2 linked regions of the Homo sapiens genome follow. The protein of the gene in region 1 purifies or fractionates together with the protein of each later gene. This does not show direct contact. Each region holds a gene or a part of one and is shown on either strand. Other genes may lie near its edges.

Region 1 (3,833 bases):
AAGAATTTATCACAAATGCACCAGGGCTGTGTTTATACAAGGAAAAGCAACTCTGATACTCAACATATGTAGGAGGGGAACATCTTAACAGGCCCAAGGATCCACACTGAAAGCTTTTCTCCCAAATGCTTTTCTCATTAGCAAGTAAAAAAATACAACAGTTGTTTATACAACAGAGCCAACCAAGTGACTTCGGGGGCTCAGCAGTGAGTTACAGCTTAGTCTAGACCACACTTAATTTAGTCCGAACTTGGTCTAGACCATACTCAAGGGTCCTATCCGGCAGGAAGCAGCCCAGCCCTCAAAGTCATGACCTATGGATGTTATTCCACACAAAACCATCCAATGCAGGGCAAAGGCCAGTTTGCTCGAGACTGAACAAATTCCTGCTCTCTATAAGCTCCCGCCCCAAGCCTCAGTGAGCTCCTCGGGGAGTAGAGAGCATGGTCAGAAAAGCAACAACCACAAATGCAGCTGCAGGCCACCACCAAAGTAGATCCCAGAACAGGGACGCCCGCCTAAGACAGAGGGACCACACATACGACGCACAGGCTAGCATCAGAATACTACTGGGAAAGAAATAATTCCATCTTTTTTCAATCTGTCAGCTTCAAACAGCCGCAAAACTCAATAAACATGTCAAGATGCTCCACATAAGATCCAAAACCTCTCTTAGATCTGGAACCAAATGCAAGGTTACTGGCTGGGGAGCCACCGATCCAGATTCATTAAGACCTTCTGACACCCTGCGAGAAGTCACTGTTACTGTCCTAAGTCGAAAACTTTGCAACAGCCAAAGTTACTACAACGGCGACCCTTTTATCACCAAAGACATGGTCTGTGCAGGAGATGCCAAAGGCCAGAAGGATTCCTGTAAGGTAAGAATCTCTCTTTCAAACAGGCATCTTGGAGCGCTGTACAGTAGCCAAGCCTCTATTGCTCACTGACACTGAGGAGGAGGGAGGGGCATGGAGAATACAAAACCACAATTCTAAACACTTTCTCTTCATTCCTGCACAGCATTCTCTATTCTTTTTCATCTACCAATGTGGATGGATTGTAAAAACTTCCCCAATACTTTATAAGCACCCACTAAATGTTTGTTAATCAGGATAATAGACCATATCTGACAACTTTTACAGGCTTCCTATGAGAGGTGTTATCCTCCTTACAAAGTCTACCAACCCTGAAGTCACTAGTGGTGATTAGAAGATAACTTATTTAAAGAACCACCTTGCAGATTAATCAATAAGGAGGCCTTAAAGACTCAAATGCAAAAAGCTCAAATATACAGTATGTGTTTCATAAGTAATGCTGACTGACTGTCTTCGTCTGTTTGGGCTGCTACCACAAAATACCATAAACTCGGTGGCTTATAAATAACAGAACTTTATTCTGTTCAAGATCAAGATCAAGGCACCAGCACATTTGGTGTCTGGGGAGGGCCTACTTTCTGGTTCATAAACAGCTTCTTTTCACTCTAATCTCACATGGTAGATGGGGTGAGGGGTCTCTCTTAGGCCTCTTTAATAAGGGAACTAATCTCATTCATGAAGCCTTCACCTCCATGACCTAATCACTTCCCAAAATCACCACCTCCTAATACTCTCACCTTGGGAGTGAGGATTGCAACATATGAATTCGGAGGAATCAGACTTTCAGACCATACCACTGACTAACAAAAAGGAACAAAAGGCCGGGCATGGTGGCTCACACCTGTAATCCCAGCACTTTGGGAGGCCAAGGTGGATGGATCTGTTGAACTCAGGAGTTTGAGACCAGCCTGGGCGATATGGTGAAAACCCGTTTCTACAAAAAATACAAAAATTAGCCAGGTGTGGTGGCACACGCCTGTAGTCCCACCTACTCAGGAGGCTGAGGGGGGAGGATCACCTGAGCCCAGGAGGTTGAGGCTGAAGTGAGCCGAGATCTTGCCACTGCATTCCAGTCTGGGTGACAAAATGAGACCCTGTCTTAAAAGAAAAAAAGGAACAAGAGTCATTATGTTTTTCAAAATCATTTGTTTATTGAGATGGTAAGGAAAAAAATAGGTGTTCATGTTTGTATGAACTATACTAATATATAGCACAAATGAATTACTAATTTTTTAAAAATTAGAATACAGTATTCATCTCATACTATATTAAGTATAATTGGGGGAGAGGATATGATGACTTCAAATGTCTTGTGCATCTGCAGTACCCAAGACCATCACCCTCCTAAACATCGGTTATCATGGTTGACCAAAGTATAAGGCACTGCAGTTTGCAATGTGAACATTAGCAAAGAGAAAGGCTGGTCTTCAAATGTAGAAGCCAGCTCTTCATCAAAAGGCCATGCCATCCCCTCTATAGCTCTTTCCCTTCACTTGATAGAATTTAGTTACATGCTTTGCTGTTAGAGTGTCTTCAAAAATCATTTCATTCACTAAGTATTTACTAAGTATGGTACATATACATAACACTATGTCCAACCATGTGAGGATGCAAAAAATAAATAAATAACAGAGAACATATAATTCCTGCCATGAAGACATTTACTACAATACATTGCTCTTTTCTGCTAGCCTCAATAACAACTCGATTTTAGGTCTGTGAGCATCAAAATGAAATCTACAATTTTAAAAGATTATTTTATTTCAGTGGATTATTTAAAACTTTATCCATTCTTTAATAAATAGTCAATAGTCATTGATTCCCAGAGGAATGTAGACATAGATAGGGACAAAACAGAGATATAGACATGGACACTGAGACAGAGGCAGAGGCATAGTCATAGTCATAGATAGAGACATAAACAGAGAAGCAAGTAGGCAGAAACATAGTCCTTGACAGAGACAGGCACATGGACAACCTATAACGAGTAAGAGGCAGTGTCAGACACTCTTCTGGACATAAAGAAAGCAAAGACCCAGATGATAATCCCTTGAGCAATCAGCAGTTGGTGGTTAAAAAACAAAAATATCCCAACAGCTTCTTACCACGTATTTGCCCTTTTTCTTCCTTCCAGGGTGACTCAGGGGGCCCCTTGATCTGTAAAGGTGTCTTCCACGCTATAGTCTCTGGAGGTCATGAATGTGGTGTTGCCACAAAGCCTGGAATCTACACCCTGTTAACCAAGAAATACCAGACTTGGATCAAAAGCAACCTTGTCCCGCCTCATACAAATTAAGTTACAAATAATTTTATTGGATGCACTTGCTTCTTTTTTCCTAATATGCTCGCAGGTTAGAGTTGGGTGTAAGTAAAGCAGAGCACATATGGGGTCCATTTTTGCACTTGTAAGTCATTTTATTAAGGAATCAAGTTCTTTTTCACTTGTATCACTGATGTATTTCTACCATGCTGGTTTTATTCTAAATAAAATTTAGAAGACTCTCTGTTTGTCTTTTATCACATGAAGTAATATCTGCCCCCATTGCACCCACACTCGCCAAAGGGCAATAAGGTCACTGAATAAAACAGTAATGGTACCACCTTCAACTAGGTGTAACTTCTGCTGGATCATCCTAAGTTGTTGGGTTGTTTTCTTTTCATTGTTGTGATAACATTGAACATGAGATAGGCCCTTGCAACAAATGTTTAAGGGTATGATACATTATTGTTAACTATAGGCATGATCTTGCAGTGCAGATCTCTAGAACTGCTTCATCTCATATAAATGAAACTTTATGCCAGTTGAATAGCAGCTCTCTATTTCCCCACCACCCCCATCCTCTGGCAACCCCATTCTACTCTAAGCTTCTATGAGTTTGTATTTTTTAAATATAAATCATAAATATAAATATCCTAATTCAAGCAAGCAGCTTATACAAATATTTGGACAGTATTTCT
Region 2 (3,833 bases), on another chromosome or scaffold:
GGTGGGATGTGTCTCCCTGCAATGAGCCTTCGCTCCTCCTCTTCCCTTGCAGGGATGCCCTCCGCAGCTGAAATGCCACCCCTCCAGGAAGATTTCTCTGACTCTCCCCCAACCCTTTGAGCTGTTTGTGCCTCTTCTCAGTTCTTGTCTCACCAGATTTGTACCTTTCTCGTAATCTGGACCACAGATGCCTGAGCGTCCTGGCACCCATCTCACTAAATGGCAACCATGTCCTTCCCATTGATCAAACCAGAAGCCTTGCAGACCCCTCACCTTTTCCACTCTTCCCTCCTATCCCACATGCAAACCATCATTAAGCCCTGGCAGCTCAACTTCAGAATATATCCCAAATCTGCCACTCCTCACGGTCTCCTCTCCAAATACCCAACCCAAGCACCATCAGTTCAAGCCTGGGTTATTAGAGTAGCCTTCAAACTGATCGTTCTGCTTCCACTTTCACCCTATCCTATTTCCCACCCCGATTGATCTACTTAAAATATAAATCAGATCATGACACCCGCCCAAAACCTTCCTGTGGTAGACAAATAGATTGACAAAACAGGATAGAGTCCAGAAATAGATCTACATACACAGAGTTCATTGATTTTTGCCAAAGACCCCCAAGGCGGTTCAATCAGGAAAGAGAAGTTCTCTTAAAAAATGACCCTGAAACAAATGAATAGGCATAAGGAAAAATTAAACCTGGACCCCTGCCTCGCACACACACAAAAATTAATTTGAAATGAATCATAGATTTAAAAGTAGAAGTCAGCATCATGAAGCCTCTAGAACAAAACATAGCCTTTGTGATATTTGTGTAACAAAGGTTTCTTAAAGTGGTCACAAAATAAAAACTAAATAAAAACTAAATGATAAATTGAATTTGGTAAATTGGACTTAATCAAAAATTAAATCTTCTGCTCTTACAAAGATATCCTTGAGAAAAAAGAAAAGCAAACTATAGAATGAGAGAAAATACTCTCAATACATATATCTGACAAAGCATTTGTAACCAGAATATATAAAGAACTATGACAAATCAATAATGAAAGACTACCCAATTTTTTAAAAAAGAAAATATACAAATGGCTAATAAACATGTAAAAACCTACACTACATTATTAGTTATTAGAGAAATGAAGATTCCAACCTCCATGAGATACCATTTCACATCTATTAGAGTGGCTAAAATTTTAAAAACTGACAATACCAGATGTTGACAAGAAGGTAGAACAATCAGAATTCTCATGCTTTGCTGACTGCAGAATAAAATGGTACTACTACTTTGAAAAACTGGCAGTTTCTTACAAAGATAAAAATATTTCTGTTCTTATGACCCAACGATTTCACTCCTAGGTATTTACCCAAGAGAAATGAAAACATATGTCCACAGCAGCTTTATTCATGGCAACAGCAAAAACAACAGAACTGTAAATAATCTAAATGTCCATAATTAGAAAAATGAATAAACGTATTTGTAGTATATTCATATAACAAAATACTTTTTATCAATACAAATGAATGAACTCATGATACCTGCATTAGCATGGATGGAGCTCAAAAACATGTTGATCAGGCTGGGCACGGTGGCTTACACTTGCAATCTCAGAACTTTGGGAGGCCGAGGCAGGTGGATCACTTGCAGCCGGGAGTTTGAGACCAGCCTGGCCAACATGGTGAAACCTCGGCTCTACTGAAAATACAAAAATTAGCTGGGTATGGTAGCTCATGCCTGTAGGCCCAACTACTTGGGAGGCTGAGGCAGGAGAATCCCTTGAACCTGGGAGGTGGAGGTTGCAGTGAGCTGAGATTGCGCCACTGCACTCCAGCCTAGGCAATAGAGTAAGACTCCATTTCAAAAAAAAAAAAAAATGTTGATCAAAAGAAGCCAGATGACAGAGTACTCACTGTGTGAGTCCATTTATTTGAAATTCTAGAACAAAAAATAAATATCCATTGATAGAAATGGGAACAGTGTTGGCCTATGAAGAATGGAAATTGACTGGAAGGAGGCCTCTGCTCGAGTCCTCTACTCAGAGGGTCCTTCCTTGAACACTCTATCTAAAGCAGCCTCTTCCTCCTGGTTCCTTCCACCCCTTCTCTTGCTTTGTTTTCTTACATAACTCATTTCCACCTACAAGTATATTCTATATTTGCTTATTGTCTGAATCGCCCACAAGGTAGGAATTGAGATTTGGTTTTAGATGTAATGGCAGTCAGGTGAACTGGCTTGAACAATTCATTCTTCATATATGTTTTAACTGTGATAAAATTTACATATTGGGAAATGCAGGTCCTTCAGTGCACAATTTGACAGATTTTAATAAATGTGAATGCTGGTGTAACCACCACCTCAACCAAACTCTGCGCATTCCCATCACCCACTAGAATTTAAATGGCACATGGGCAGGGTCTTCTTTATCCGCCTAGTTCACAGAGTACAGGGCTCAGAACAACCCCAACATAGTTCTTAATAAACAACTGTTTAATAGTTAATTAATTAATGCTTTTCTAGGTTGTTGAGAAGATTAAGTAAGGCAGTGCATACAAAGTGCTTATAGTGACAGGCAGAGGAAATATTCAGGAAATATAAGCTACTGTTATTATTCATCATAGTATCCCCAACAGTGACCGGGAATAGTGACCACCACAAATTAGGTGTACAATAAAGAATTAGATGGATAGAGCAAATGAAGAAATGGATGGGTAAGCAAATTGGTAGGTTTATGGGTAGGCACTTGGATGGATTGTTGGATGTTTGAATAGATGAATGAATAAAATGAATGCTTGGATGGATGGAAGGATGGATGGATGGATGGATGGATGGATGGATGGATGGATGTTTTGATGGATGGATGGATATTTGGATGGATGTTTGGAGGGATGGATGAATGGGTGGATGTTTGGATGGATGGATAGATGGATGGATGGATGGATGGATGTTTGGATGGGTGGATGGAGGGATGGATGGATGAGTGTTTAGATGGGTGGATGGAGGGATGGATGGATGAGTGTTTAGATGGATGAATGGATGGATGGATGAATGGATGTTTGGATAGATGTTTGGAGGGATGGATGAATAGATGGATGTTTGGAAGGATGGATATTTGGATGGATGGATGGATGGATGGATGGATGGATGGATGGATGGGTGGATGGATGGATGGATGGATGGATGAGTGGGTGAATGGGTGAGTGATTGTCTTAGAAAGCATCCAGAATTCCTAGGGGAAACTTAGAGGAGCTTTTCCTTGAGATTCCACAGTACTATCCTTGCATCAGGATGCTCAGGACAGGTAAGGAAGGCAACTTATATGTCCAGGATCTTTTTCATTCCCTGAGCAGATAGACATCACTTTACATTTCACATTGCAGTCTTATCTCCCTCCTCCATTGTCATTTTCAGAGTATTTCCTCAAGCAGGGTGGTAGCCTATTCTCCCCATTTACAAGTTAGAAAACTGAAGCCCAACAAGTTGAAATGACTCATCCAAGTCATGCAGCCAGAAAGTAGAGGGCTAGGTGTCAATCCTGGGTCTCTGGACTCCTGCTCTTTCTCTACGTCCAGGGCTTGAGAGGCAGGAAAGTCCGGAGACTAAGAGCATTCCTTTCGGGCACTCTCAGCCATTGTGGTCTAGAAGCAGGCAAGGGGGTGTAGGTTTTGATTGTCTGGAGCTGCTAATGGGCCAGGCTCGGAGTGTCAGGAGGCTGAGGGTGGAAGGAGTGAGGAGGCTGACAGCAGCAGGCTTGGCTTCCAGAAGCAACATCTCAACACAGCAGTAAAAGAGGGAGTCAGGGACCATCGGCTGCAAACGCACTTGTCTAGTGGCAGCT

The links.
Region 2: the proteins of GZMK (region 1) and IGSF21 purify together in Homo sapiens (affinity purification with mass spectrometry; one large-scale study listed by BioGRID and IntAct). This does not show direct contact.

What each region holds. Positions count from the first base shown.
Region 1 is NC_000005.10:55,030,756-55,034,588, forward strand, and holds the end of GZMK (granzyme K precursor), read left to right. Parts: intron 1-608; coding exon 609-878; intron 879-3,009; coding exon 3,010-3,171; 3' UTR 3,172-3,815; downstream 3,816-3,833.
Region 2 is NC_000001.11:18,369,715-18,373,547, forward strand, and holds part of IGSF21 (immunoglobulin superfamily member 21 precursor), read left to right. Parts: intron 1-3,833. UniProt on the Homo sapiens protein: Involved in synaptic inhibition in the brain. Selectively regulates inhibitory presynaptic differentiation through interacting with presynaptic NRXN2.